4 linked regions of the Homo sapiens genome follow. The protein of the gene in region 3 purifies or fractionates together with the protein of the main gene of each other region. This does not show direct contact. Each region holds a gene or a part of one and is shown on either strand. Other genes may lie near its edges.

Evidence for each region.
Region 1: the proteins of KCNK16 (region 3) and UBXN7 purify together in Homo sapiens (affinity purification with mass spectrometry; 3 studies listed by BioGRID and IntAct, with this or other methods). This does not show direct contact.
Region 2: the proteins of KCNK16 (region 3) and CYP51A1 purify together in Homo sapiens (affinity purification with mass spectrometry; 3 studies listed by BioGRID and IntAct, with this or other methods). This does not show direct contact.
Region 4: the proteins of KCNK16 (region 3) and GHDC purify together in Homo sapiens (affinity purification with mass spectrometry; 3 studies listed by BioGRID and IntAct, with this or other methods). This does not show direct contact.

The regions. Positions count from the first base shown.
Region 1 is NC_000003.12:196,429,416-196,436,793, reverse strand, and holds the start of UBXN7 (UBX domain-containing protein 7), read left to right. Parts: upstream 1-4,366; 5' UTR 4,367-4,394; coding exon 4,395-4,467; exon of another isoform or gene 4,468-4,592; intron 4,593-5,352; exon of another isoform or gene 5,353-5,409; intron 5,410-7,378. UniProt on the Homo sapiens protein: Ubiquitin-binding adapter that links a subset of NEDD8-associated cullin ring ligases (CRLs) to the segregase VCP/p97, to regulate turnover of their ubiquitination substrates.
Region 2 is NC_000007.14:92,131,460-92,139,170, forward strand, and holds the start of CYP51A1 (lanosterol 14-alpha demethylase), read right to left. Parts: upstream 3,019-7,711; 5' UTR 2,906-3,018; coding exon 2,714-2,905; intron 414-2,713; coding exon 315-413; intron 1-314. UniProt on the Homo sapiens protein: Sterol 14alpha-demethylase that plays a critical role in the cholesterol biosynthesis pathway, being cholesterol the major sterol component in mammalian membranes as well as a precursor for bile acid and steroid hormone synthesis.
Region 3 is NC_000006.12:39,319,700-39,327,601, reverse strand, and holds the start of KCNK16 (potassium channel subfamily K member 16), read left to right. Parts: upstream 1-4,899; 5' UTR 4,900-5,061; coding exon 5,062-5,274; intron 5,275-7,902. UniProt on the Homo sapiens protein: K(+) channel that conducts voltage-dependent outward rectifying currents upon membrane depolarization. Voltage sensing is coupled to K(+) electrochemical gradient in an 'ion flux gating' mode where outward but not inward ion flow opens the gate.
Region 4 is NC_000017.11:42,191,479-42,198,674, forward strand, and holds the start of GHDC (GH3 domain-containing protein isoform 1 precursor), read right to left. Parts: upstream 3,017-7,196; 5' UTR 2,915-3,016; intron 2,373-2,914; 5' UTR 2,289-2,372; intron 2,117-2,288; 5' UTR 2,104-2,116; coding exon 1,839-2,103; intron 1,550-1,838; coding exon 1,428-1,549; intron 1,265-1,427; coding exon 763-1,264; intron 1-762.

The sequences.
Region 1 (7,378 bases), on a different chromosome or scaffold from region 3:
ATCTCGGCTCACTGCAACCTCTGTCTCCTGGGTTCAAGTGATTCTACTGTCTCAGCCTCCCAAGTAGCTGGGATTACAGGCGCCCGCCACCACGTCCAGCTAATTTTTGTATTTTTAGTAGAGACGGGGTTTCACCATGTTGGCCAGGCTGGTCTGGAACTCCTGACCTCAGGTGATCCACCCACCTCGGCCTCCCAAAGTGCTGGGCCTACAGGTGTGAGCCACCACACCTGGCCTGTCAAAGGTTTTACATATTGTTATTTCAGAGAACCAGCTTTTGGTTTTATGAATCCTCTCTTCTGTATTTTGTATTCTATTTTGTCAATTTCTGCTCTTTAGCATTTTTTCTTCACATTTTTCCTTGTCTGCTGAGTTGTTGTTCCTTTATTAACTTCTTGATGAAATGCTGAGCTACTTATTTTCCAGTCTTCTTCTCTAATATAACCAGTTAAGCTTATATATTCTCCTTTAGCTTCTGTTAAAACTCCATCAGTTTCGGGCCAGGCTCTGTGGCTCACCCTGTAATCCCAGCACTTTGGGAGGCTGAGACAGGTGGATCACTTGATGTCAGGAGTTCAAGACCAGCCTGACCAACATGGTGAAACCTTGTCTCTACTAAAAATACAAAAATTAGCTGGGCATGGTGGCCTGCTCCTGTAATCCCAGCTACTTGGGAGGCTGAGGCAGGAGAATCGCTTGAACCCAGGAGGCAGAGGCTGCAGTGAGCCAAGATCCTGCCACTGCACTCCAGCCTGGGCGACAGAGAGAGACCCTGTCTCAAAAAACAAAACAAGATGAAACAAAAAAGACCCAAACAAACCAAAAAGCTCCTCAAGTTTTGGAATGTATTTCCATGACCATTCCATTTTACATTTGTGTCCATCAATTTCCTCTTTTCCATCCTGCTCTCTGCCCCGGGGCTGCCTGTGGGAACTACAAGGGGCTTCTTGCTGTGCCCTCTGTCTTCCATTTGGGTTCAGCCATTGGGGATTCCTGGCAGGAGACAGAAGAGGAGATCGAGGTCAGGGTATCTATGTCCCTGAGCTCCTCTCTGAGATTGCCTCAAGCTGCTTATTTATGTCCCTTGACAGAAGGTCATTGCTTCTTGCATGGTGGTTTGCTCTGCAAAAAAATCTCACTTGGGATTTCTCTAACTTCTCTCTGTTCTCATCTCTTTGGACGTATGGGTTGTGACAGTTCTACTGTTACTAGTATGAGATCCTCCACTGTTCCTTGTGATTTCCACATATCTTACCCAGGCTGGAGTGCAGTGGTGTCATCATGGCTCACTGCAGCCTCGACCACCTGGGCCCAAGTGATCCTCCCGCCTCAGCCTCCAGAGTAGGTGGGACTACAAGCTTGCACCACCGCACCTGGCTAATTAAACTTTTTTTTTCTTTTTTCAGAGATAGGGTCTCCCTATGTTGCCTAGGCTGGTCTCAAGCTCCTGGGCTCAAGTGATCCTCCTGTCTTGGCCTCCCAAAGTGCTGGGATTACAGGCATGAGCCACGACACCCATCCTTCATATTCATATTCTTTTTTTTTTTTTTTTTTTTTTTTTTTGAGACGGAGTCTCACTCTGTTGCCCAGGCTGGAGTGCAGTAGCTCATTCTTGGCTCACTGCAAACTTCACCTCCCGGGCTCAAGCGATTCTCCTGCTTCAGCCACACGAGTAGCTGGGATTACAGGCACGCACCATCACGCCCAGCTAATTTTGTATTTTTAGTAAAGATGGTGTTTCACCATGTTGGTCAGGCGGGTTTGGAGCTCCTGACCTCAGGTGATCCCCAGCCTCGGCCTCCCAAAGTGCTGGGATTACAGGTGTGAGCCACCGCAACTGGTCAGTCCTTCATATTCTTTAATAATCCAAAAAAGCTTTTCAAGGTTGTATTATTCATTACTTCTTTATTTATTTTTCCCAGTTCCCTGGTTATCCATGGAAACTGTCTCATTTTCTTCCCTTCTTTCCCCCCCTCCCCCCGACCATGGAATCTTTTTGGCCACCTGTCTAATTTTCTTTTATCTTATTTTTTAATTTCTAAAAAAATGCCTTCTGGAGTTGTGGATGCCACAGACTTTATCACCTTTTCCTGCACTGTTAATCAAAATCATATCATTAAATCTGAATTATAAGATTTTGGAAATAAACCTGATAAACCTGCAGAGCTCATTACTGGCCTCTCCATCTGATGGAGGTACAGTAATCACTGTGTTTAGTTTTTGTAGTTAATGGTGTTATACCATTTTACGTGGAGCTTGATTTTGCATGGCTGGCTAGTGACTCAGCCTTTAGGATGAAGGGAGACAGAGGTAACACTTTCTTGATTTGGCTTTCTTCCCTTGCCTGTTTTTGCACCTCTGCATCAAATGTGAAGGAATCAGCTGCCGAAATTTATGACTGATCCCTGCCCTTCCTCAGCCCATCTAGAGAACTGCAGCAACCTGGAAGGCAGTGCCAGGACCAATCTGTCATTTAACTTAAAATACATTTTTTTTTTTGAGACGGAGTCTTGCTCTGTCACCCAGGCTGGAGCACAGTGGCATGATCTCGGCTCACTGCAACCTCTGCCTCCCGGGTTCAAGTGATTCTCCTGCCTCAGCCTCCCAAGTAGCTGGGATTACAGGTGCCCGCGCCACCACAGCAGCTAATTTTTGTATTTTTAGTAGAGATGGGGTTTCGCCATGTTGACCAGGCTGGTCTGGAACTCCTGACCTCGGGCGATCCGCCCGCCTCGGCCTCCCAAAGTGCTGGGATTACTGGAGTCTGCTTTCTTTTACATCAATCATATCTTCTTGAAACTACAGCCCGACTGGGTGTGGTGGCTCACGCCTGTAATCCCAACACTTTGGGAGGCCGAGGCGGGTGGATCACTTGAGGTCAGTAGTTTGAGACTAGCCTGCTCAACATGGTGAAACCTCGTCTCTATTAAAAATACAAAAATTAGCCAGGCGTGGTGGCGTGTGCCTGTAATCCCAGCTACTTGGGAGGCTGAGGCAGGAGAATCGCTTGAACCCGGGAGGCGGAGCTTTCAGTAAACTGAGATTGCACCACTGCACTCCAGCCTGGGCGACAGAGCGAGACTCCCTGTCAAACAAAACAAAACAAAAAACTATACCCCTTGATTTGACATGGCTCTTTCTTAATTCTCCCCAATAGCATGTTTACTCTTAGGATGTGTCAATTCTTCAGACAGCTCATCCCATCTTTTATTGGGCCATTTTCCTATGAAGATGCAAAATATGTGGGTGGAGGTTGGAAGGTGGGAGGCTAAAACAAACGGAATCACTTGGAATCTCTTTTAACTTTATGGGCAAGGTGGGGGATTATTGGATTTGAGCGCACCCCACTCATGTAACTGTTTTGCAAAATACTTAAAATTATTCAAGGAACACACGAATATCTTTTTTTTTTTTTTTTTTTTGAGATGGATTCTTGATATATTTCCCAGTCTGGTCTCGAACTCCTTGCCTCAAGCGATTCTCCCACCTCGGCCTTCCAAAGTGCTGGGATTACAGTCATGAGCCACCGCGCCCGGCCAATAATGTTTGTTTAAAAATAAAAAGATAAATAAGAAACTCGAAGTAAGGTCCGCTTTGACCATCGTCCCGATCGTTCTCTTCTCTGGAGGTAACCGTTACCAGCGTTTTGAGCACACTTTTCCAGTCTCCTTTCTATATGTTTTCTTTCCTCTACTGCATATACAGAGTTTCTTTTTATACAAATGACGCCTCTTGGGGTCTCATTAAGACCCTAACGGGAGACGTGATGGCCAATTTATTTAAGGAAAGCAGACTAAACAATCGTTTATGAAAACCTACTGGGTGGCAACCCCGCGCTAAGTGCTTTCTTTGGCATGAAGGGTTCTGGTATTTCACTCGTCGCAATCGGTTAGCTAAGCCATTAGTTTAGAGGCTGGGGGGCGAGTACGGGGAGAGTCGCTTCAAAGCGAGGAGGTAGGGTTTGCATTTTGATGGGACCTGCAGGAAACCTAATAGAGTGCGGTACAACCGCAAAACAGAAAAATGCTGTCATCGGCAGTTGGCTCTGTCAATAAAGCTTGCGAAGCTGAAATGCGAAGAACTATCTGCCGAGACCGAAGCTTCCTTCGGAATCTAGGAATCGACACCGCGCCTGCGAGGCTAGCCTTGGAGCCCGGAGAGGAAGGCACCAGCAATGGCAAAAAGGATGCACTGAGCAGGCAGCAACCGAGCAGCCAACCCGAGAGCTGGGAGCGCGCGGGCCCGGTCGGAAAATGCGCCTGCGCAGACCGCTGGGGACGGGAGGGGCGGGGCTCGAGGGGCGGTCAATGCGCCTGCGCACACCGCACGGCGAAGTGGGGGAGGGCAGTCCGTGTGTGTCTGTGTTGTTGTTCGGCGGCGGCGGCGGCGGTAAGATGGCTGCCCACGGGGGCTCCGCGGCGTCCTCGGCGCTGAAGGGGTTAATTCAACAGTTCACCACCATTACCGGTAAGAGACGCGGTTACCGGAAGGTGGAGAGTGGGGTCCGGAGCGGGCAGCGGGTCTGCCCCGGGCTTCCCCTTACCTTCAGGCATTCCTCCTTCGGGCTTTACCCACAGCTGCCGTCCTCCCTCCTGAGGAAGAGGCGACGACGGCGTCGGGGTCTCCGGGTTCAGGCGGGAGACAGCCCCCCCCCGCTCCCGATACCCTCGTTCTCTGTCTCCTAGTAGCGTGGAGGGAGATCCCCCAACCCCCCGCCAGCCCAGACCTGGGAATGGGCCGAGTCCGTCCGCCCCCGCCGGCCCGGGGACCCGGGGGCGGGAGGAGTAGGGGGCCGCACCCGGGCCACCGCCCTCCTCCTCCTCCTTCATCATCTTCCCTTCTCTGTGCAGCCCTGCGGTGCGGTGCATCTCCTCACCTCCTTTTTTCCTTTCTTCCCCGGCCAGGTCATTCTGCCCCGGTCCCCGGCCTGCCCTTCCCCTTTCTGGGCCCCTCGGAGCCATCGCCGTGGCCCTGGCGGGTTCGGGCCCTCCCGCCTTCACGGCAAGGCCGGTGGGTTCGGCCGTGCCTTTACACTTCACGGGGGACAGGCCGCCAGAAGCGGGGGGTGCTGAGGAGGACCTCAGGGACTGAGGCTTTGAGGGAAGAATGAGGGGGAACCCCCAAGCTGAATAGGGGAGGCCTGGAAGAATCCAGGGTGGCGTTTCCCACCTCCCCATAATAAAATCATAAAGACGGAGACGATGGCGCCGGGGCCTCCTGCTGATAAGATAGGGATGGCGGCAGAAACTTCTTTGAGAGAAAATCTGTTTCTGGGTGTCGGTATCCCCGAAACCCTAGGCCTAGGTTCTCTCCCTTTGGACCCCTGCGAAGGACACACGCAGATCCTCTTACCGCCTGGAGGAAAGGCCCTAAAGCCATTCTATGAATTCTCTCTGTCTTGTTTCTCTCTGATGGTGCTGAACTTTTCTTGCATGAGTTATTAGAGGGCGGAGCAAATGATGAAGTTCTCTGTGGAGTGATTTGAGAGAAGAGTACTCCAATGTGCCTGAGTGTAATTTTGCCGTTCTAGTTTGTCGTTTTGGAAGGAGGTCAGAATGTTAGTTCCCTCTCAACGGATCTATACTTTATCTCGTAATTTGTTAGATGCGGAGAATGTTTCCACTGTTAATGTTCCTAGAGTTTAACGTGCAATATCTGGTTAAGTAAAATTTTATATTGTTTTAACTACTACAGGTTGTATACTAGTTACCGTTTTATATTAAAGCAAGTTTTATTTTTTTGCTTTGCAATGATAACGAGATATTTGACGCATTGTTATCTAGCTTGTGGGCATGGAACATCAGGTCAAAGTAAAGTAAAATTTGCAATAAAATTGGGGTGAGGAGTTGCATGATAACTTCTCTTAATATTTTTGAACTTTGTGATTGGATTATTGAAGATATAAAGGATTGGATTATTATATTAAATATGTAAAGGATTTCCTAATGTCTGACAAATCATTGCTATGGAGAAGATTATTGTGTATATAAGTTAGTGTTGCTGCATTATGCTTATATAGAAAAATCTTTGCAGTGAATCTGATAGAGAAGTGAATATCATTATTAATCCTTTAGATTTCCTAGAGATGGTTTATGATGCCACTTGGGCCTGGCGCGGTGTCTCACGCCTGTAATCCTAGCAGTTTGGGAGACGGAGGCTGGAGATTCACATGGGGCGAGGAGTTGCAGACCAGCCTGGGCAAAACATAGTGAGGCCCCATCTCTACAGAAATAAGAAAATGAGCTGGATGTAGTGGCACCGACATGTAGTCCCAGCTACTGGGGAGGCTGAGGTGGGAGGATTGCTTGAGCCTAGGAGTTCAAGGCTGCGGTGAGTAGATCATACCACTGCGCTCCATCCCTGGCAACAGAGCAAGATCATTTCTCAAAAAGAAAAAAAAAGCCACTTATTATTATTATTATTATTATTATTTTGAGACAGTCTCGCTGTGTTGCCCAGGTTGGAGTGCAGATCTCCCAGGCACGATCTTGGCTCACTGCAACCTCCACCTCCCGGGTTCAAGCGATTCTCCTGTCTCAGCCTCCCGAGTAGCTGGGACTACAAGCGCCTGTCACCAGGCCCGGCTAATTTTTGTATTTTTAGTAGAGGCGGGGTTTCATCATGTTGGCCTGGCTGGTCTTGAACTCCTGTCCTCAAATGATCCACTCACCTCAGCCTCCCAAAGTGCTAGGATTACAGGCGTGAGCCACCGCGCCTGGCCCTAAAAGCCACTTAATTAATTTTCAGTTTCTTATGCTAATTACTACTCTTCCCAAACTCTGATTGGTTTAACGCCACATTACTTCTTCTGTTGCAACATTTTTATTAGGTACACACAAAAACCGAAGTGTGGTGAGTTGAATTGACTCACTTAATTGCTTTAATTCTGTTTCTGTTCGTCTACGTAGCTTGATTGCTGGATCAAGTTGGAGTCCCTCAATCAGTAGACAGTGGTATCTGGAGATCTACAGAGCGAAAATACCTTTGAGTGTTCTTCAAATATTGTGAATTTCTATTGATAATTTTTGGGATTCTTTTTACAAGATAGTGATTAACCGTTAGAAACACATGATTGATTTCTTTTTGCCTTTTTTACATGTCTTAAAATTTTTTTGGGGTTCTCTCCACATACGTTTTAATCGTAGTGTTTATAATTAAAAGGTATTTTATATTTATTTTAGTGACCTTAATAGCTTATGCTCTGATTTCACAAAGGTTTTACTTGGAAGCTCAATATTCTTGTAAAAACAAATGCATCATCAAAAATGTGAGTCCTTACTTTTTAGGCAGGAGCAAAAAAAAGAAAAAGAAAAAATAAAAATAAATGTGAGTCTTATCTTTTTTTGGCATTTAGAAATAGAACGGAAAATTGAAAGAT
Region 2 (7,711 bases), on a different chromosome or scaffold from region 3:
TTAATTAATATCAATTTTAATGACAATAAGTGAATAGAAAACTCAGAACAGTGGCTTTTAAACCATAGTTGCCAGAACTACAGGTTTCCTCAATGGTGTCTCAAAGACGACCCCAGGACATGGGAAAAGCTAAAAGGATAGGTATCTATAAGACACCATCTCTTAAACCAGAGCAGTTTCCATTTTGTTTCCTATACTGAGGATATGTATATGATTACAATGTTTTTAAATGTTCTGCCACTTTTTTAAAAAAGTTTAAAAAGCACTTCTCTAGTTGTTTTTTTTTTTTTCCTCTAATTATTTGGAAGACTTACCTTCTCATATGCATTTTCTAGAAATTCAATTGGACTTTTCCCAAATGCTATGGCATGCCCAAGGAATGGAATTGGGGAGAAAATGTATGGAGGACTTTTCTACAAGAGAAAAAAATAGTAAATTCAATTCGTGTTTCATTTCAAGAGAGAAACCCAGTTTCGTTTCATGACCAAACAATTAAACAAAATAGCTATTAAGACTTCAAAAAAAAGTTACCAAAAAAAAAGGAAGCATCAGAAGTAACTTGAGAACAGCCAAATTGCAAATACCTCAAGAGAGTAGCTATTGTAGAAAAGAACAGAAACTCAAAACACGGTATAAGATAAACGACCAGATAAACACTAAGGCACTGTAAATTTAAATGATGGACACTGTCCAGAATATGTCCAATTATTATTGGTGTCTCCAGGCAACTTTTCTAACCATTAGTAGCAAAAAACCAAAAAGGTCAAACTACACTTGTCCCTTGGCATTTGTGGAGAACTGGTCCCAGGACCCCCTCACAGATTTGTATCCAGGGATCCTCAAGTCCCTTATATAAAATGGCAAAGTATTTGCGTATAACCTATGCACATCCTCTCATATACCTTAAACCATTTCTATATTACTTACAATACCCAATACAATGTAAAGGCTATATAAACTGTTATTAAACTGTGTTTTTTTATTTGTATTATTTTTTATTGTTGTGTTATTTTGTATTGGGTTTTTTTCCCCTGGGTATTTTAGATCTACACTTGGCTGAATTCCCAAATGTGGAATTCGTGTCCCCAGAGGGCCCACTATATTGTTTCTTCACTACTTACTACTACTACTACTCACAATTTTAGTCCCAGATACTTGCTTAAAGAAGGTATAGAAAAAGACAAGCAGTAACTTGTAGTATAGAAAGAAGGGAAATGTTTAAGAAGCTATATTTACTTCTCAGTAAACAATCAATCTCATGCTTCTCTCACTGCAAGTGAACTAGAGCCACTGATTTTAGAGTTTTTAAGAGAGTAGATCAGCTCTAGCAAGAACTCTAGCATTCTTCATAAAAGTTTCTTTAGATGCCACAAAATGAGACCTGCAGATTACAACATTAAGTATCCTGAAAATCAAACAAAATAATGAAAAAGGGTAATACTCCTCAATTCTCTGGTGGTCTCAAATAGAAAGGAGCACCACAACCTCACAGTACACCTCAGCTAATAGAACTATCTTTAAACACTAAAAGTAACTTTGTCTTCCCAGAGACAAATATCATTTCCTTAAAGATCCCATGTGTAGGAAAAAAATAAATAAATAAATAACTCTTTCTTATGCCTGGTATGGTTCAAACAAAAATTATTTTAAAAGCTACTTGGTCAAAAGTTTGTACATTGCATTGTCAGTAAAAGGGTAGTTTTCAAAAGCTACTTATTGCTGACTGTAAAAGGCACAATCAAATAACATTTGGGAGATTGAAAGCTAGGTTAATAAGGCTGTTAAATTGAAGAAAATGATTTTTTTTTTTTTTGAGACGGAGTCTCATTCTGTCGCCCAGACTGGAGTCCAGTGGCGCAATCTCGGTTTACTGCAACCTCCGCCTCCTAGGTTCAAGTGATTCTCGGGCCTCAGCTTCCCAAGCAGCTGGGACTACAGGCGTGTGCCACCACATCCAGCTAATTTTTGTTTTGTTTTGTTGTATTTTAGTAGAGATGGGGTTTCTCCATGTTGTTCAGGCTGGTCTGGAACTCCTGACCTCAGGTGATCCGCCCGCTTCGGCCTCCCGAAGTGCTGGGATTACAGGCGTGAGCCACTGCTCCCGGCCGAGAAACTGTTACATTATTAGCATCAGAGGAAGGCCCTTACCACACTCCAGTCACTACCATTACCACACTCTACACATCCTCCTTAATATGGGTATAAACCACCATTAGGGGCACTGCTACAGCCCACAGAACACTGAACCACACAGGGCAGCCTCCAGGATGACGGGCCAGCTGCCAACAGCATCTCCGTCAGGACCCCCACCAAGGGCCCCAACGACCACCGGGTCGTTCAAACCCACAGCCGCCAATCCAGCCACCGCCACTAGGGGCACCACTGCTGCGGTCAGTACAGACCGCTACAACCACAAATGCCGCAACCACGACCCCGTCTAGGATCAGATACACAGCCGGGGAGGCCAGCACCGCCCCCCAACACAAGGCAATGGCGGGTGCTACAGCCAGCGCCACCAGCAGCAGTGCCGCCGCCGCAGCCACTACTCCAGCCCCCAGCGCGCCTGCCACCAAAGCCACGCCAAGCATGGCCGCAGTCGCCCCCGCCCTTGCCATCCACTGAGCCGGTCGGGGCCACGGAGCCGCCCACGCCAGCCCTTCGGCCGCCTCAGCTGCGGCGCGCGCCCCACTCAGACCCTAAAGAATGTACGTACCACCCCTGCGGGCAGCTGGACCAGGTGGCCGGCGGCCAGACGGATCAGGTAGACCAGGCTGAGGGTGAAGGCGCAGGCGATCAGCAGCATGGACAAGAGGTTGCCGCCTGTCACCTTCTCCATCGCCTGGCCCAGCACCGACCCACCCGCCTGCAGCAAGCCCAGCAGCAGCATCCCAGCCGCCGCCGCCATTCACTCCGTCGGAAACACTGAAGGCCGAGGTCGCCACCGCTCCTCCCAATCGACGGAACGAGAGAAGCTGGCAGATGGTCGTCCACAGGGGGCCTTGCCCCAGGTCTCCTACTAAACCCAGCCCCACCCCTCGGGTCCCACGCGCGCCACCCCGTGCGTCACAGAATGGGGCGGGATGTTCCGCTGGCCACGCCCCTTAAATAACACTCTGTGAAGCCGTGGTCTTCTTGCGCGGGATAGGGCACCTGAGGAAGCGGGCTGCGCCTGTGGCACAGTGGTACGGGGCCGGAAGATAACTTACCTGAAGAGGCGATCAATCCCTGAGAATCGCGGGCGACCCGTTTTTTGTGTGCCCGGGTGCGGGGTGCCGGGACACGGCGTTGAAGGCGCTGAGCGGAGGGATCTCAGGGCGAGCTCGAGCGGCGACGGCGCGCTCTGTGATTGCACCGCGAGCGCCTGAGGTGATCTCGGCCTACATCGCGTCAGCGGGGCCTTGGGCGTGAGCACCGCCCCCTGTCCGGACGCAGGGTACTGGGGCACCTCGAACTGTGGCACCTCACCCTTCTCCGGGGCCACGTCTTGGGGACTCCGACAGCCCCAAATAAGCCCTCGGGGACTGGGGTTGTGAAAAGCGAGGTCGTGAAGACGCCGGCCTCATACCGAAGGGTAGGACGGTGAGGTCAGCCCCGTCCCACTCCAACTAAAATCAACCTGACAGGTATTAATATGCCACCATGAAGTTAACAAATGTTGGTGATTAAGTATGCTAGGTTTTACGAAAACAGATTTTCCAAAATAAATGTACATGTTTTAGGACGTCGCGAGCCGTTTGAGGCAGCATTCCCCAAGGACGCCACTTAGTCTGTAGGTTTAGCGGCTAGAAAGATTCAGAAGCTGAGTTCAGTCCTGCCGCCACAATCAATCTTCGCTCCTATGGCTTCACAGAAGCGTCTCCCATGACTACCAAATTTAACTCCTTCCAGATCACCCACGGGAGCACCTGACCGGATTCATTTATTTAATCAATGTTAAGAACTAGGTTTTGTGCTAAGCTAGGGGATAGAGCAGCGAATGAGACAAAACTGCAAGGCCCTGGGGGAATTAGTAGGAATATCCAGTGAAAGGGAAATTAATGAATTTTATAAGTATACTAATCAAGAAGTATATTCTTTTCCTTTGAGGTAGAATGTAATATAGCACCTCCCCTACCCAAGGCCTGGGTTAAGAGTATATTAACTGCTTATTTCTCCCCTATGCGTGGAGAGGCTTATCTGTGTTCCATCGTTTCACATTCCTTGAGGCACAGCGAGTTCTTGCTTCCCTCCCTAGCGCTGCTGTAAAGTCACAAAACTGATTAGCAAGTGTTACAAAAGCATGTATTCCCAAGGACGTAAGACATATGGTGTAACAAATGTAAGAGTAATTTACTGCCTTTGTTCTTGCTTCTGCAAGTACACTTCATGCAACACGTAACTCCCAACACAAACTGCTTAAAAGGTGATTGATCCCTTTGTTCGGGGCTCAGACTTTCTGGACCCTAGTCCGACTGAGCCGGTGATCACCTTAATAATAAAGGCTCTCCTGAACTCTGCTCGGTCTCTCCCGTCTATGATTTGTCCCGCAACACCAGTTGCCTGCGGAACACCTCTACCTAGAGAGCTAACACTCATCCCCGGTCAGTAAATCCAAAACTAAACCCGTTGCCTCCTCCTACCAACCTGTCCCTCCTATAATGCCTGTGAAGAAAAGGCATCACTGTGCACACTGTTGCCCTCTCCATGCTTCATCTAATCAGTCATCAGATCCTATAATTCTACCACCTTAAAAGTTTCACCGTTTCTTCCGTCCAGTCGCGGTGGCTCACGCCTGTAATCCCTGCACTTTGGGAGGCCGAGGCGGGAGGATCACCTGAGGTCAAGAGTTCGAGACCAGCCTCACCAACATGATGAAACCTCGTCTCTACTAAAAATACAAAATATTAGCCGGACGTGGTGGCAGACGCCTTTAATCCCAGCTACTCGGGAGGCTGAGGCAGGAGAATCACTTGAACCTGGGAGGCAAAGGTTGCAGTGAGCCGAGATTGCGTCACTGTACTCCAGCCTGGGCAACAAGAGCAAAACTCTGTCTCAAAAAAAAAAAAAAAAAAAAGAAAGAAACTGTGATATATATAAATATATATTTATATATTTATATATGGAATGGAATGCTACGTGGTCACAAAAAGGAATGAATGAATGGCATTTTCAGCAACCTGGATGGGATTGAAGACTATTATTCTAAGTGAAGTAACTCAGGAATGGAAAACAAAACATCATATGTTCTCACTCCTAAGTGAGAGCTAAGCTATGAGGATGCAAAGGCATAAGAATGACACAATGGACTATGGGGACTCAGGGAAAGGGTGGAAGGGGGTGAGGGATAAAAGATTACAAATTGGGTTCAGTGTATACTACTCGGCGATGGTTGCACCAAAATCTCACAAATCACCACTAAAGAACTTACTCATGTAACCAAATACCACATTTCTTAAAACCCTATGGAAATAAAAAATTAAAAAAGAAAAAAGAACCCAACAGTCTTCTATTAAGCCAGGTGTAAAAGAGATTTACAAAAATCTAAAACTATGCCATTCTTCTCACTAATATTTTATTTTTGAAAATATAGCTATAGGCCGGGTGCGGTGGCTTACTCCTGTAATCCCACCACTTTGGGAGGCCCTGGTGGGTAGATCACAAGTTCAGGAGTTTGAGACCAGCCTGACCAACATGGTGAAACACCATCTCTACTAAAAATACAAAAATTAGCCAGGCATGGTGGCGCGTGCCTGTAATCCCAGCTACTCAGGAGGCTGAGGCAGGAGAATCGCTTGAACTCGCAAGGTGGAGGTTGCAGTGAGCCGAGATTGTGCCACTGCACTCCAGCCTGAGTGACAGAGCAAGACACCGTCTCGAAAAAAAAAAAAAAGAAAATATAGCTATATTCATGAAATGACATTATTTATGTAAATAATTATTTTCAATAAACATTTTCATTTATTTTAATTTGTAATACTGTAAGTTTTGATAGATATAATCCATTTAAAAAAATGACTCTCTAGGGTTCTTAATAATTTATTATTTTAAGTCCTAATGTAACCACCCAAGGGGTTCACCTTGCCTGCTGCCTAGACAGAGCCAATTCATCAAGGCAGGGGAGTTGCAATAAAGTAATTCACGCAGAGCCAGCTGTGTGGGAGACTGGAGTTTTATTACTCAAATCAGTCTCCCTGAGCATTTGGAGAGCAGAGTTTTTAAGGATAACTTGGTGGGTGGGAGTTGGGGGGTAGCCAGTGAGCCAGGTGTGGTGATTGGTCAGGGGTGAAATCACAGGGAGTTGAAGCTGTCTTCCTGCCTTCAGTCAGTTCCTGAGTGGAGGCCACAACATCAGATAAGCCAGTTTATTAGTCGGTGGTGCCAGCTGATCCATCAAGTGCAGGGTCTGCAAAATATCTCAAACACTGATCTTAAGAGCAGTTTAGGGAGGGTCAGAATCTTACAGCCTCCAGCTGCATGACTCCTAAGTCATAATTTTTAATCCTGTGGCTAATGTTAGTATAGTTCCCAGGCAAGAAGGAGGCCTGTTTTGAGAAAGGGCTGTTACTGTCTTTGTTTAAACTATAAACTACAAACTAAGTTAGTTTCTCCCAAAGTTCGTTCAGCCTACACCCAGGAATGAACAAAGACAGCTTGGAGGTTAGAAGCAAGATGGAGTCTGGCTGGGCATGGTGGCTCACACCTGTAATCTCAACATTTTGGGAGGCCGAGGTGGGTGGATCATTTGAGGTCAGGAGTTTGAAACCAGCCTGGCCAACATGGGGAAACCCCATCTCTTCTAAAAATACAAAAATTAGCTGGGCGTGGTGGTGGGCGCCTGTAATACCAGCTACTGAGGAGGCTGAGGCAGGAGAATCACTTGAACCTGGGAGGCAGAGGTTGCAGTGAGCCGAGATAGCACCACTGCACTCCAGCCTGGGCAACACAGTGAGACTCTGTCTCAATAAAAATAAAAATAAAAAAATAAGCAAGATGGAGTTGGTTAAGTTAAATCTCTTTCATTGTCTCAGTCATAATTTTGCAAAGGCGGTTTCAGGTTCCCTTCATAGACACAGAGCAGTTGTCCTGTCTGAAGTTTACCTCTCTGCTGCTCCTCAGTGAATGGGCTTTCTTTAATCCCTCCCCATTAAAAAAAAAAAAAGTCCCATTCCCTTGCAGGAAAACTGTAATGCCTACCCACAGGGATTGGTCTCCCTCTGGCATCCACAGCCCACCCCACAACACTCCAAACCCCAACTCTACCTTTCACCAGCAGAGCAATTCATAAGACACAATTATGCAAAACATAATAAATCTGATTTTTTCCGTAGGAGGTGGTTCAGGAAAACGGTCCCATTTGGCACCTCAAGTCTAGGTCCCTCAAGTCTCTACAACAGTATGCAAAGAAAATGTTCATCTTCATTCTTCTTATAGTTTTCTGGTAACTTACTGAACCAAGCGCACACACACTCTCCAAGGACAAACATTTTTCAGTGCTGGGACAATGCAAATTCAGGTAAGGGAAGACAAACATTTCCCTAAGTGCAGATAAATCTACACTGATTTTCCTACTCTTAACAGAATGGGTTGGGCATGGTGGTTTATGCCTTTAATCCCAGCACTTTGGGAGGCCAAGGCATGTGGATCACGAGGAGAGGAGTTCAAGACCAGCCTGGCCAGAATGGTGAAACCCGTCTCTACTAAAACTACAAAAAAAAAAATTAGCCAGGCATGG
Region 3 (7,902 bases):
CTCACAGCAGAGTAGTGCCCACGTAGGGAGATGTTGGACAGAGAGGTCTCTGCAGCCCTGCAGTTTTTCTCCTAATCTTGACCAAGCGCTGACCTCACAAGACCACAGTGGACTAGGAAGAGTAGCTGAATCAGGTCCCAGAACATGGAGGGCGCTCAGTCAGTGTGTGTAGAATGAGTTAAGGCAGGAAGCGAGGGAGGCAGGATGGGAACATCCTCTCTGGTGCAGAGAGCTTTTATCTTCTACAAGCTCTCTCTCTCTCTCTCTCTTTCTCTCTCTCGCTCTCCCTCTCTCTCTCGCAGTCTCTCTTTTGTTCTCTCCTCCTTATTACAAAAACAATTGTTGCTTGTCCTGGACAGAAAGGCCACCGTATCTGCCACGGCGAGTGCCTTCCAGGTGGTACCTATATGTGTGATGCCCCCATCCCCTGGGCTGGGGCAGGTCAGCTGAGGGGGCTGTTTGATCCAAGGCTGGGCCATCCTCAGCCCACCAGACACCTGTAGAGTAGCCACCATGAAAAGGCACTCTTGGGCACTTAGTCCATCCATAAAGGATTTAAGCCAAGAGATACCAAGATAAAGAAGCAGAGGGCAACGGGCATGGATCTGACCAGATGCCAGGAGGTCAGCCAGGAGTGGAGCCCCAAGGCAGAGAAACGGCAGACGGGAAGCACCTGGGGCGAGTAGAGAGTGGTCAGGCCAGGCTACTGGTGGAAAGCTAGGAGGCTCCAGAAACCTGGCTGCTCCCCAGTTCCTACAGCACAGTCTGTGGGCCTCTTGAGCTGAGATCTCCCCCAAAGTCCACCATTATGTTGCCCTTTCTGTGGCTTTTGTGGCCCTAGGGTTTTCAGAAGTCCCCCATTAAACTGAACATGCTTCTGAGAAAGACTCTATCCTAAACCCCAGCCAGGTGAAGTCTTATTGGGCTTGGGTGGTTTGTGAAAAACTGATGTAAGAGGGAGATGTGAGGGTGTGACCAGAAGAGAGTAGAGAGGCAGCAGTGGAGAGAAAGAGCCAGGAAAGGCAGGAGGAAGCTGTGCTGGCTGACTTTCCCAGAACATGGTAGAGTCTCAACAGATAGCCCCAGCGCACAGTAGGTTCCCAACAGATCATTCATAAATGAATGGAGTGTCTGCCCACAGTGAGCCTGGTACACTTCCTGCCCAGGACCTGAGGGAGGGAGGGCACCTTGATGGCTGATTCATCCCTCCCTCTACCCCAGCCCATCTCAGACGTCCCTGTGGCCCACTACGTTCATCCCCTTCTCCCATGCAGATAGTCCATTCTCTTTTCCTTCGTTTCCGTCCCCCTTAGAACAACCGTCATTACCTGTGGACTGTGTCCAGACTGCTCAAAGATACTCAGTGCTACAGAGTTACTCAGTCCTGCCTGAAGCCCTGCAGACATCCACGGATGAGCTTTCTAAGTGATACACGAGAGAGCTCTCCATGTATTGAGTTTCTCCAGGGCAATCGAATAGGGTTTGACTCTCACGCTGCCTTTCAGATTTAATTCTAACTCTTGCTTAAGCCAGGAGCTGGTGCATCTGTAGCAGAAATGAGTGCCAGCACTCTGTTGCCCCACTGATTCCAGATGCTTCCTTCTCCCTCCAAGACAAGCCCACATCCCAACAAGGTGCCGTCTGGGAAAGCTCCCGGACCATGTGAAGTGGGGCTTGCACAGAACCACTTCAGAGATCCCCAGATGGCCTCAGAGGATTCCAGAAGCAGCAGAATTCCAGAGAAGGTGGGCTCCATCACACCACCCCCAGACAGGGCCGTGCCTAAGCCACAGGGTGGACAAAAGCCTGCAGGTTTGTCACTGCGTCGGGACATTCTTAATGAACAGCCCACACAATGTGGGCTCCACCTCCGCTCACTGTGATTTGTTGTTGTTTGGTTTTTAGCAGAACCCTATGTTACTACCAATCTCTTGATCACCCACATACCTGAAAAATAATGTCTCCCTCTTGCTTTTATCTTCTACAAGGTCTCTCTCTCTCTCTCGCTCTCCCTCTCTCTCTCGCACTCTCTCTTTTGTTCTCTCCTCCTTATTACAAAAACAATTGTTGCTTGTCCTGGACAGAAAGGCCACCGTATCTGCCATGACAAGTGCCTTCCAGGTGGTGCCTACATGTGTGATGTCCCCATCCCCTGGGCTGGGGCAGGTCAGCTGAGAAGGCCGCTTCATCCAAGGCTGGGCCATCCTCAGCCCACCAGACACCTGTAGAGTAGCCACCATGAAAAGGCACTCTTGGGCATTTAGCCCATCCATAAAGGATTTAAGCCAAGAGATACCAAGATAAAGCAGCAGAGGGCAATGGGCATGGATCTGACCAGATGCCAGGAGGTCAGCCAGGAGTGGAGCCCCAAGGCAGAGAAACGGCGGATGGGAGGCACCTGGGGCGAGTAGAGAGTGGTCAGGCCACGCTGCTGGTGGAAAGCTAGGAGGCTCCAGAACCCTGGCTGCTCCCCAGTTCCTACAGCACACAGTCTAATTACCAGAAATACCTGGAGTGTGTTCTGATCCCTTCCAACTCAAATAAGCCTTGAACAGTTTTTTAAAAAGAACTCAGGCCGGGCTCAGTGGCTTACCCCTATAATCCCAGCACTTTGGGAGGCCGAGGCGAGTGGATTGCCTGAGCTCAGGAGTTCAAGACCACTCTGGGCAACATGGTGAAACCCTGTCTCTACTAAAATACAAAAAATTAGCCACGCATGGTGGTGCGCAACTGTAGTCCCAGCTACTCAGGAGGCTGAGGCAGGAGAATTGCTTGAACCCAGGAGGTGGAGGTTGCAGTGAGCTGAGATCATGCCACTGCACTCCAGCCTGGGCTACAGAGTGAGACTCCATCTCAAAAAAACAAAGAAACAAACAAAGAACAACAACAAAAACTCATAATAACAATTGGGAAGTAACATAATACCTAATGGTGGCTGAAACAAGGTTTATGTTTTCAATATAAAAAGAAATCTAGAGAGGAGTGTGCAGGAATTGGTCCAGTGTCTTTGCAGTGCCCATGACCTTTCCCTCAGGGACACAAGATGGCTCAGCAGGTCCAGACAGAAAGAGGCAGAAATGCGGGGCCAGCTGCAGCTGAACCCTTGGTCAACAGACAACAATTTTGCCCAAACCTCCTCAGCCAACTCTGCCCAATCATGGCTGGACCTGGGCACGTGGCCAGCCCCAGCTGCAAGGGAGCTTGGGAAAGTGGGTGCAGGGGACGCTTCGACCCTGGGGTCTCCTCCCCAGGCTTTAATGTGTTTTTCTCCCAGTGGCCTAGCCTGCACCTGGAGCTCTCCTTCAGGGGTCTCTCCACAAGCTCCTGGAGCCATCTTTCCTGCACGTGCGCAAAGCCAGAAATGCATGAGTGACGGACTAATGTGGGGATATGAAGGCCCAGGTCCCCTGCTGGGACTCACTGGGGTGCACTTCACCTGCCAGAGCTCCCAGGAACCAGGCTGAGGCTGGGACTGTGGTGCCTTGTTTGGCTTTCTCCTCAGCCTGGCCCTCTTGCCCACTGTCTTATGGGTCTTCAGTGACTTCACTGCTCTCAGGGGCTGAGACAGAGGGGAGCAAGATTAGCACTATGACTTAGACCAATTATGCTCAATTACCTGGGGTTAACACTTACAAAGCCGGGGTTCTGCTAGCTGGGGAGGAGGGAAAGGATACTCAGCAGGCAACTCACAGTGTCTGCAGCCACAGCTCATTAAAGGAAACAGCAGAAAACACAGCAGAGATATTGGAATCCTCGCCCTGGGCTAGTGAGAATATAAAATGGTTCAGCCACTTTGGAAAATAGCCTGGCAGTTCCTCAAAAAGTTCAATACAGAGTGGCCAGATAGTCCAGAAATTCTACTCCTAGGTATGTACCTGTGAGTAATGCAAACACATGTCCACAAAAAAAACTCATACACAGAGGTTCATAGCTGCTTTGTTCTTAATAGAAGGAAACAGGGACAACCCAAATGTCCATCAACTAGAAATCAAATGGATAAACAAATGTGTTATAGCCACACAATGAAATATTACTCAGCCAGAAAGAAGGAAGAAGTACTGTTACATGTTGCAACAGGGCTGGATCTTGAAGACCCTGTGAATATACTAAAACCCACTGAATTGCACACTTTAAATGTGTGGACGATACAGCATGTGAATTATATCTGTATAAAGCTGTTATACATGTACATAAACAAGCATGTGTACACACACACACACAGGCAAAGAGAAAGGAAAGCACTCTCAATTCCATCCACTCAGAGACAGCCCCTCTTACCATCCCAGGATCAGGATATACTTATAGTTTCTTTTTAATTCACACATATATTTCACCGACATATCCTCTGAAGGTAACCCACTAGAGGGCTTCATGCAAGACAAATTAGCAAGAGTTATAAAACCAATGAATCCAACTTATCAGCAGAATCAACCCTGATACTCTTACCATCAGGCTGAGTGAGACAATCACCTGTCTATTTACTTTGCCCTGATTTGTCACGCAGTTTACTCATCCTGAGGTTCCCCCAATAGGCAGTTCAATTATCCTGCCCCATTTTGTAGCCAAGGCAACTGAGTAGAAGGTTTATTCATACCCATTCTGACCTCTTCCCAGCTCCTAAGCTGGGGTCTTACAGCCTTCAAGGGTGAAGACGCTGGGGGCGGCCGAGAGAGCCCACTGGGGCCTGGACAGAGTGAGCACACCTATCCGATTTAGCCCAGAAACATCTATCCAACTTGGAGACAGAGAGAGAGACATGAAGCACTCAGGAGAACCTGGTAGGTCTCTTTGAAGGGTCCCTGACACTGACTTGCTGCTGTCCATGGAAACAAAGGCCGGGTGGGGGTGGCCGGCCTGTTTGCACTCACAGCATAGCACTTAGTGCAGCCAAGCTGAGCCGCACTGTTCAAACAGTCTCCCCAGCCTCCAGACACCTGTGCCGAGGAGGAGGGCAGGGCAGGCGGCAGCCTGGGCACAGGCCCCTAGGTGCTTACTCCTCACCTGTTTCCCACCTCTCCCCCATAGCCAGCCCCACGGCCCTGGCAGGGTCCTGGCCACAGCATGCCCAGTGCTGGGCTCTGCAGCTGCTGGGGTGGCCGGGTGCTGCCCCTGCTGCTGGCCTATGTCTGCTACCTGCTGCTCGGTGCCACTATCTTCCAGCTGCTAGAGAGGCAGGCGGAGGCTCAGTCCAGGGACCAGTTTCAGTTGGAGAAGCTGCGCTTCCTGGAGAACTACACCTGCCTGGACCAGTGGGCCATGGAGCAGTTTGTGCAGGTGAAGGGGAGCGATGTGGGATTGGGATGGAGAGGCTTGGGAAGGTTGGTGGAATGGGGTTCCTGTGGCAGATCCACAGTCCTCACCCAGGAGCTGATGCCCCATTTGGAAGAAGAGTGTGGTGGGAACAGAGAGCCTGGTGAGATCTAATCCTGGATTCTGGCCCCAGGTCTACAACTGGATTGATGTGTGACCTTGAACAGGTCACTTAACCTCTCTGGACCCAAACAGCCTCATCTATAAGGCAACAAGAATAACCATATCGGTACTGCAGACATTTGACAGCAGATTAAAAGCACTCTCTAAGCTGTCACTTGCTGGATGAATGGGAACTATATGTCAGCGTTATCAACGCTATCCAAATTTCCTCCTCCCACACTTTCATACTTCCCCTTCCCCAACTCCAGGGCTGCAGCTCCTTCTGCCCTCTCCCAGCTCATATCCCTGGGCAGACGGCTGCGGGTGGGAGACACAGATAAATGCCAGGAGCAGCCACCACCAAGCTGTCCTTTCCTGGCCTGTTTGCACCTGGAGTTGGGTTTGGTGGGCAATGGCCAAGGTGACTGAGCTTGCCAGCACTGCACCCAAATGGGGCTCTCTCTTGGTAACAGAGTGGGTCACCCCCTGCCTGGGTCCTTTCTGGTTTCCTCTTTCCCAGAAACAAGACAAAACCAGGTGTTGTGGAGGGAGGTGAATGCATCTGAAATAGGCACTGGAGCGAGTGACAACATCCCCTGCAAAGGAACAGACCAAGTGCCAAATCACCTTGATAACTGGCATTTACTGAGCATTCACAATGTGCCTAAAACAGTGGGAAGCAGGGTGGTCATGACCAGCTTAATCCAATCATGATCCACTCATCACCTGACACTGAGCGTGTTACAGGTGTTTTCTCATAATTACCTATTACAATCCCTATCTCCACTTTGTAGATGGGAACTGAGGTAGAATATGTTGACCAAGGCTGCACAGCTACTGGTAGAGACAGCATTCACTCCCAGGCCTCTGGCTCTGGAGCCCCGGGTCTTCACCACACAAATTAGCATAAGTGCTGGGGGCAGGATGCAACCTGAAGCAGCAGTTCTCAAAGTGTAGTCCCGGGACCAGAATCAGCATCACCTGGGAGCCTGTTAGAACTGGAGATGTCAAGCCCCACTCCGCACCTGCCGACTCAGGAACTCTAGGGATGGGTCCTGCAGGCTGTGTGTCAACAGGCTCTCCAGGTGATGTTGAGGACCCTGAAGACTGAGAACAGCTGGCCTAGAAGATGATGCGTGGGCTGGGTGGTCACAGACAACATTCTGTAGCTGTGAGAGACCAGGAAGTGAGGCCTCCAGCTTCAGGTTTTACTCTCTTCTCCCTGATGGATAAGGTTAGTCAAAGTTGGGGGACCATAGTACCACATCAGGGTTGAGAACAGTTCAGGGGCCTCCCAAAACCCTGGGAGTAAGGCAGAGGCCCTGGAGAAGCTGAAATCTCCTCCCTCAGCTCTGCATTGGAGGTGAGAGCCAAGCTGGAGGGCGTGGGAAGGGTTGGTAGCTGCAACCTAACTCGCTCTGCTAACCAAGACGAAAGGAGGCCATCCGCTTGATTGCAGCCCCGAAGGGATTGCCACTGATTAGCCCCTGGGGCCTCCCCAGGGAAGACAGGACATCCCTTTCCCTGAGAGTCCTCAGCCTCAGGAGAGACCCTTCCTTGCCAGGGGCAGTTGAGCTGGGTGGCAGAAGAACACTGGGGTGAGATTCTGGAAGAAGACACATTCCTGTTGAACTCTCAGACGCACAGGGCGAGTTGAGTAACTAGTATTAAAAGCAGTATTAAACATTGCCTCTGTGACGAAACACTGCTTGCCCAGGTTCACAAAACTGGGAAGTCAGAACCCATGGCCACCTGCATCCGCCCACCGGCACTCAGCACCCTCAGCAGGATGAGGGCTGCAGGCTGGCAGTGGGGGATGGCCCAGGACTAGAGTACTGCCCCCAGAAGTGAGGGTCTCCAGAGAACGAGCATGTTCGGGAATGTTGGGCCCTGGCCACTTTGTGGATGTGGGAAAGAAAGGGAGGCCAAAGTCCACATCTTAAGAGGCCAGTTCCCGTCAAAGTGAGGAGAAGCAGACAGCCTGTGACCGCAGATGCCCTGACTGGCTTGGCCCACCAGGGCCACCCCAGCCCTGATCTAAGCACACCCACCCAGCCAGCGGGAACTGGTTCCCATAGGAATTGGAAGCCAGAACTGTTGTGTCCCTGGCTTCCTCCTGCCTTTGGGGCTCTTCGGTGGCAAGGCTGTGCTGCTGCTCTGAGACAGTCCACAATTAAAGAGGAGAGGGTTGGGGCAGGGGAGGAGAGAGCCCTGCCTATTCTCCAAGGCGGCTGGGCCCAGGGACTGGAGGTTGTCAGCAGTGGGGCAGCGAAGGGAGGTGTTGTAGGCTTGAGCCGGCAAAGGTTCGGGTCTTGTGAAAACACATGCAACACACATACAAACATGCACACATGTGCAACATACAGTTGCCATGCACAACACGTGCATACAACACATCACATATAAACAACCACCACACACACACACACACACACACACACACTCACACGTGCCACCTTTGTCTTGGCCTCTGTTAGAATTTCTCCCATA
Region 4 (7,196 bases), on a different chromosome or scaffold from region 3:
GACAGAGTCTCGCTCTGTCACCTAGGCTGGAGTGCAGTGGTGCGATCTCGGCTCAGTGATTCAGTGATTCCTGGGTTCAAGTGATTCTCCTGCCTGAGCCTCCTGAGTAGCTGAGATTACAGGCGCCTGCCACCACACCTGGCTAATTTTTGTATTTTTAGTAGAGACAGGGTTTCACCACATTGGCCAGGCTGGTCTTAAACTCCTAACTTCAGGTGATCCACCCACCTCAGCCTCTCCCAAAGTGCTGGGATTACACCCGTGAGCCACTGCCCCGGCCTTTTTTTTTTTTTTTTTTTTTTGAGACAGGGTCTTGCTCTGTCACCCAGGCTGGAGTGCAATGGCGCGATCTCAGCTCACTATAATTTCTGCCTCCAAGGTTTAAGCAATCCTCCCGCCTCAGCCTCCCAGGTAGCTGGGATTATAGGCGTGCACCACCATACTCCGCTAGTTTTTGTATTTTTAGTAGAGATGGGGTTTCGCCATGTTGGCCAGGCTGGTCTGGAACTCCTGACCTCAACGATCCATCCACCTTGGCCTCCCAAAGTGCTGGGATTACAGGCGTGAGCCACTGCACCCAGCTACAAGACTCTTAACCTAGAGAGCCTGAATTTCTTCACTTGTAAAAGGAGGCTGCTGGCCCTAGCATGCAGCTTGTTGGGGAGGATTAAATGAGATGATTATGTAGGGCCCAATGCATGGCTGCTTGTCATGTGACCACTGACCGTTGCCCCCACCTCACTGCCCTTGAGTCCCACTGACCTCCCGAGGCAGCATAAGCAGGAGAGAAGAAGGCTAGTCCTTGGCACCACAAGGCCCCGAGGGCAGCCACAGCCTCGGCCTGGCCTCCTGCATCCAGAGTCACCACCACCTGCAGCTTTGGCCAGAGCCGAAGGGCCAGTCCCCGTGGCCCCTGCTCTAGGGCCTCCCGGAGCTCAGCTGCCCGTTCACGGAGAGGCGCTCCAGGGTTCCCGGCAGCTATCGCCCCAGCTAGCTCTTCACCATCAGTCTCCAGGCCCAAGAAAACATCCAGAAGTTCGACAGCCGTCCCAGCCTCCAGTGCCCTCAGCCCTGGGGACCTCAGTGCGTCCAGCAGCAGGGCCCTAGGGTCCTTGGTTCCAGGGGTGCCCACCTGGCCCAGGGTATTCCCAGGCCAAGGCAGGGGTCGGGGCCAAGGGGATGTAAGCGTCACACGGGCAGTGCGTCCCTGAGCCAGCACTTCTGGGTAGGCCTTGTTTAGGGCTGCCAGACCCAGCAAGGTGGCCTGGAGGAGGAAAGAGAGAATGTTGGTCTGGTGTCAGAGCCAGACCCAGAGCCCCCATTTGGGGGTTCTTTGCCCACCATGACTGGAGGGTTTGGCTGCAAGTCAGAGGTCTCTGGTGGGACTGGGCTGTGGCCAGGACTGGGCTCTGGCCATCCTAGATTACCTGCAGAGAGGCCTCCCCAAGGTCCTGGTTTGAGGTCGGGGGCAGTGGCTGCTCTCCACTGTCTTCCTGCTGGGTCTGGCTGGCCTTGGTCAGAGGGAGATGATTCCGGAAGGTGCTTATGTCTATAGCCCCAATGACAACAGAAACGCCTCAGGAAGCCAGTTTCCCAAGAGTTTCAGGCAAGACTGGTGAGACCCTTGAGGGAGGAACCGAGAATAGGCCTGGGGTAGAGAGGATGTAAGGACCCAGCATGGGAAATTCATCTTGGACAAGAAAGCCAGTCCTGGGTCTCTGGGTCAGGCCACTCCGTTGGCAGTGGAGGAGGTAAGGGGGCCATCAGGCTCTGGAATCTGACGGTCCTGTGGGGTTTCTTTCTCTTTGGGTCACCTCCCCAGACCCTGGGAAACACACCTGTGCTCCTTCTGAGGGAACAGTGGGGGCGCTGGGCTCCCTGTAGACACCACCTCAGGGCCTGCTGCTGGCTCTGGTGCACATGGAGCGTGCTCTGCTCCAGCCTCCGCCGCTGCCAGGTGGCTGCCCAGACCAGGGCCCCCCATGCCACTCGGTGCTGGAGGCCAGCAAGCCAGGACAGCCTGGCATCCTGGGACCGCTGCTGCCTGAGCAGGGCCAATGTTGGCAGCAGCAGCAGCAGCAGCAGCAGTGGCCACAGCAGCATCTCCAAGCAGCTCCTGGGAAGAGGAAGGAACCGAGATATGGGGGCATGCAGCAATTATCCATTTCTCCTCCCACGCTCTACTGCATACAGGAAAACCGAGGAAAAATGAAATTGGGAAGAAGGCAGGACCCTGTGGGGCAGGTGATGCAAAGGAGAGACTATCAAAGCTTTGGAGTCCCACTGACCTGAGTGCAGATCCTGCCTCTGCCGCTTGTTAGCTGTAGGGCCCTGAGCAATTTAGTGGGCTGCACTGAGCTCTGTTTCCTGATCTGCAAAATGGGAATAAGAATAAGAATGCCTCTTTCAGAAGGTAGGGGTGGGCCGGGTGAGGTGGCTATCATCTGTAATCCCAGCACTTTGGGAGGCTGAGGCAGGAGAATCACTTGAGCCCAGGAGTTTGCAACCGGCCTGAGCAACATAGGGAGACTCCATCTCTACAAAAAATTGAAAAACTAGCCCAGCGTGGTGTCACACCCATAGTCGCAGCTACTTGGGAGGCTGAGATGGGAGGATCCCTTGAGCCCAGGATGTCAAGGCTACAGTGAGCCAAGATCGTGCCACTGCACCCCAGCTTGGGCAACAGAGTGAGACCCTGTCAAAAAAAAAAAGAAAAGAAAAAAAAGGGAGAAAAGAAGGAAGAGGAAGGGAAGGTACAGGAAGGGTTTCGGACAGGGTCGGTCGGGCACACAGCAGCTGCGTAACGATATCTCTTGCCCACTCCCGAGTGGCTTTGCTTTCTCTCGGGATCCACCCTGTCCCAGCTCCTTGTCCCTCCTGAGCCCCAGGCTGTGGGGTCCATGCCCACATGCACCTGTCACAGCCCACTTCTGCCTACTCCTGGCACGTGACGGAGACCCCTGGGTGACTCTGGGTCTCAGCACACATCCGGCCAGAAAGAAGGAGCGATGGCTTTAAAAGGCTGGGCCCCAACTGGGAAATCCGGCCACCAGGCCTGAGGGAGGAGCTGAAGGAGGGGGGTGCTCTTAAAGGGGCAGGTCGCCTACAGGACTTCATGTCGGGTGCTAGCCCAGGCTGGCAGTTGGGGCAGTTAGGACCAGACTAGCATGGTCCTCAAACTTGCGCAGGTGAAGGAACAGAAAGGTGTGTGTGGGAAAGAACGCCATTAAGCCACTTGAGCTGGGAGAGGGGCAAGCTTAAGAACTCTTAAAACCCCAACTCAGCTGGGCGCGGTGGCTCACGCCTGTATTCCCAACACTTTGGGAGGCTGAGGCGGGTGGATCATCTGAGGTCAGGAGTTTGACACCAGCCTGACCAACATGGTGAAACCCCATCTCTACTAAAAATACAAAATTAGCCAGATGTGGTGGCACATGCCTGTAATCCCAGCTACTTGGGAGGCTGAGGCAGAAGAATCACTTGAACTTGGGAGGCGGAGGTTGCAGTGAGCTGAGATTGCGCCATTGTACTCCAGCCTGGGCAATGAGCGAAACTCCGTCTCAAAAACAAACAAAACAAAAACAACAACAAAAAAAACCCCATCCTCTCCCTCAAGGTAGTTGAGAAAGAAAACAATTTTATTATTGAATAAGCATTCAACCACAATGTGATGTACATGACAGGTGATCTGCTAAGAGCTTGCAAAGAAGGGAGGAAATCTTACTTTTTTGTATAGCCAAGCGCATACAACCCATTACATACACGTTTTCAAGATAAACAATAACGAGTCCTCAAGTAAGAGGACTTGTCACATATAGTTTATCTTTTTTTTTTTTTTTTTTTTTTGAGACACAGTCTTGCTCTGTTGCCCAGGCTGGAGTGCAGTGGCACAATCTCAGCTCACTGCAACCTCCACTTCCCAGGTTCAAGCGATTCTGCTGCCCCAGCCTCCCAAGCAGCTGGGATTACAGGTGTGTGCCACCACGCCCAGCTAATTTTTGTATTTTCAGTAGAGATGGGGTTTCACCATGTTGGCCAGGCTGGTCTCAAACTCTTGACCTCAAGTGATCTACCCTCCTTGGCCTCCCAAAGTGCTGGGATTACAGGTGTGAGCCACCACACCCAGCCAGTCACATAGTTTATCTTAACTTTACATGGTTATTAGGTGAACATCTGTGTTAGCTTGCTGGCTTTATCCCAAGGAAAATTACAAACTTCTTTTTTTTTGTTTTTTTGGCAGAGTTCTATTCTTGTTGCCCAGGCTGGAGTGCAATGGCACGATCTTAGCTCACTGCAACCTCCGCCTCCCAGATTCAAGCAATTCTCCTGCCTCAGCCTCCCGAGTAGCTGGGATTACAGGCACGCATCACCACACCCAGCTAATTTTTTGTATTTTTAGTAGAGACGGGGTTTCACCATGTCACCATGTTGGCCAGGCTGGTCTCAAACTCCTGACCTCAAGTGATCCACCTGCCTCGGCCTCCCAAAGTGCTGGGATTACAGGCCTGAGCCACTGCACCCAGCCAGTCACATATAGTTTATCTTAACTTTACCTGGTTACTGGGTGACCATCTGTGTTAGCCTGTTGCCTTTATCCCAAGGAAAATTACAAACTTCTCTTTTTTTGTTTTTTGTTTTTGAGACAGGGTCTTGATCTATTGCCCAGGCTGGAGTGCAGTGGTGCGATCATAGCTCACTGCAACCTCAACCTCCTGGGCTCAAGAGATCCTCCTGTCTCAGCCTCCCAAGGGACTGGAACTACAGGTACGCACCACTACGCTCAACTAATTTTATTTTTTGTAGAGACGAGAGAGCTCCCTATGTTGCCCAGGCTGGTGTGTTCTTGACCTAGGCTCTCAAAACACTAAAACCACTCCCTTTCTCCCCTTACTTGCCTCTGGATACCTTTGAGAAGAGAGCTACTACTTGCTGAGCACCTCTCTTCCCTTCACAGCTGAGCTTCTTTCAACAGGTCTGTTCTCACTCTGGCTAACTCACCTCACTTTCACGTTTTTTCTCGCTGAGATCTTGCATTTGCTTTTATTATTTATTTAAAGACAGGGTCTTGCTCTGTTGTCCAGGCTGGAGTTCAGTGGCCTGGTCACAGCTCATTGCAACCTTGAACTCCGGGGATCAAGCAATCCTCCTACCCCAGCCTCTGAGTGGCTAGGACTACAGGCATGTGCCACCACACCCAGCTAATTAAAAACATTTTTTTTTTTTTTTTGTAGAGACAGGGGGTCTTACTATGTTGCCCAGACTGGTCTGGAACTCCCGGTCTCAGCGATCCTCCTACCTTGGCCTTCCAAAGTGCTGGAATTACAGGTGTAAGCCACTAGACCTGGCCCAGTAACAGCTTTATTAGATATAATTCACACACCATACAAATCACCCATTTAGTGTACAATTCAAGATCTAGTATATCCAGAGATATGTGCAACCAACACCACAGATAATAACATTTTCCTTACCTCAAAAACAAACCCTGCAGAGTCTCTCTGAGCCTACTGTGCCTCAGGAGACTGCCCAATTCGTTAAATAAAATAAAATAAAATAAAATAAAATAAAATAAAATAAAATAAAATAAAAAACCCCAAACTCAGGCTGGGCGTGGTGGCTCACACCTATAATCCCAGCACTTTGGGAGGCCAAGGCAGGTGGATCACCTGAAGTCAGGAGTTCAAGACCAGCCTGGCCAACATGGCAAAACACTGTCTCTACTAAAAATACAAAAATTAGCAGGGTCTGGTGGCCGGCGCCTATAATCCCAGCTACTTGGGAGGCTGAGGTGGGAGAATCGCTTGAAACTGGGAGGCAGTGGTTGTAGTGAGCCGAGATGGCGCCACTGCACTCCAGTCTGGGTGACAGAGCGAGACTCTGTCTCAAGAAAAACAAACAAAAAAAAAAACAAAACAAAAAAACCCCCAAACCCTGTATCCTTTCACTATTACCTCCAAACTCCTTCCCAGCCTCTAGGCAACCTCAAATTTACTTTCTGTCTCCATAGATTTGCCTATCCTAGACATTTCCTATAAATGGCATCATATAATATGCGGTCTTTTGTACTTGGCTTCTTTTCTTTTTCCTCGCTCTGTCACCCAGGCTGGAGTGCAGTAGCATGATCACAGCTCAAGTGATCCTCCCACCTCAGCCTCCTGAGTAGGTGGGACTACAGGGGTGCACCACCACATCCAGCTAATTTTTGTATTTTTTTGTAGAGATGGGGTTTCACCGTGTTGTCCAAGCTGGTCTTGAACTGCTGCACTCAAGTGATCCCTCGCCTCAGCCTCCCAAAGTGCTGGAGTCCCAGTCATGAGCCACCGTGCCCGGCCTGGCTTCTTTCATCTAGCATGATATTGTCAAGGTTCATCCGTGACAACATCATGTCCTGTGTGTCAGCACTTCATTCCTTTTTATTGCCGTATATTCCATTGTACAGATATACCATAATACATTTTGTTTATTCATCAGTTGATGGACATTTGGGTTGTTTCTGCCCTTTGGCTATTATGCATAATGCTGTTATGAACATTTGTCACAAGTGTTTCTGTACATATATGTTCTCATGGTTCTTATGTAGATACCTACAAGTGGAATGGCTGGGTTTTTTGTTTTTTTTTAATTTGAGACAGAGTCTTGCTCTGTTGTCCAGGCTGGAATGCAATGGCATGATCTCGGCTCACTGCAATCTCTGCCTGCCGGGTTCAAGCGATTCTCCTGCCTCAGCCTCCCAAGTAGCTGGGATTACAGGCGCGTGCCACCACGCCCAGCTAATTTTTGTGTATTTTTAGTAGAGACGGGGTTTCATCATGTTGGCCAGACTGGTCTCGAACTCCCGACCTCAGGTGATCCACCTGCCTTGGCGTCCCAAAATGCTGGGATTACAGGCATGAGCCACCGTGCCCGGCCCTATTTGTTCCTTAAGAGCCAGCTCCAGGCTGGGCATGGTGGTTCACGCCTGTAATCCCAGCATTTTGGGAGGCCAAGGCAGGTGGATCACCTGAGGTCAGGAGGTCCAGACCAGCCTGGCCAACATGGTGAAACCCCGTCCCTACTAAAAATGCAAAAATTAGCCGGGAGTGGTGGCGCCTGTAATCCCAGCTACTCAATTAAAATAAAAAAATAAAATAAAAAAAAAGCTTGAGTTGCTCAGTGGCCTTCCTGCATGTTCTTTTGCATAATGACTTTGGGATGCC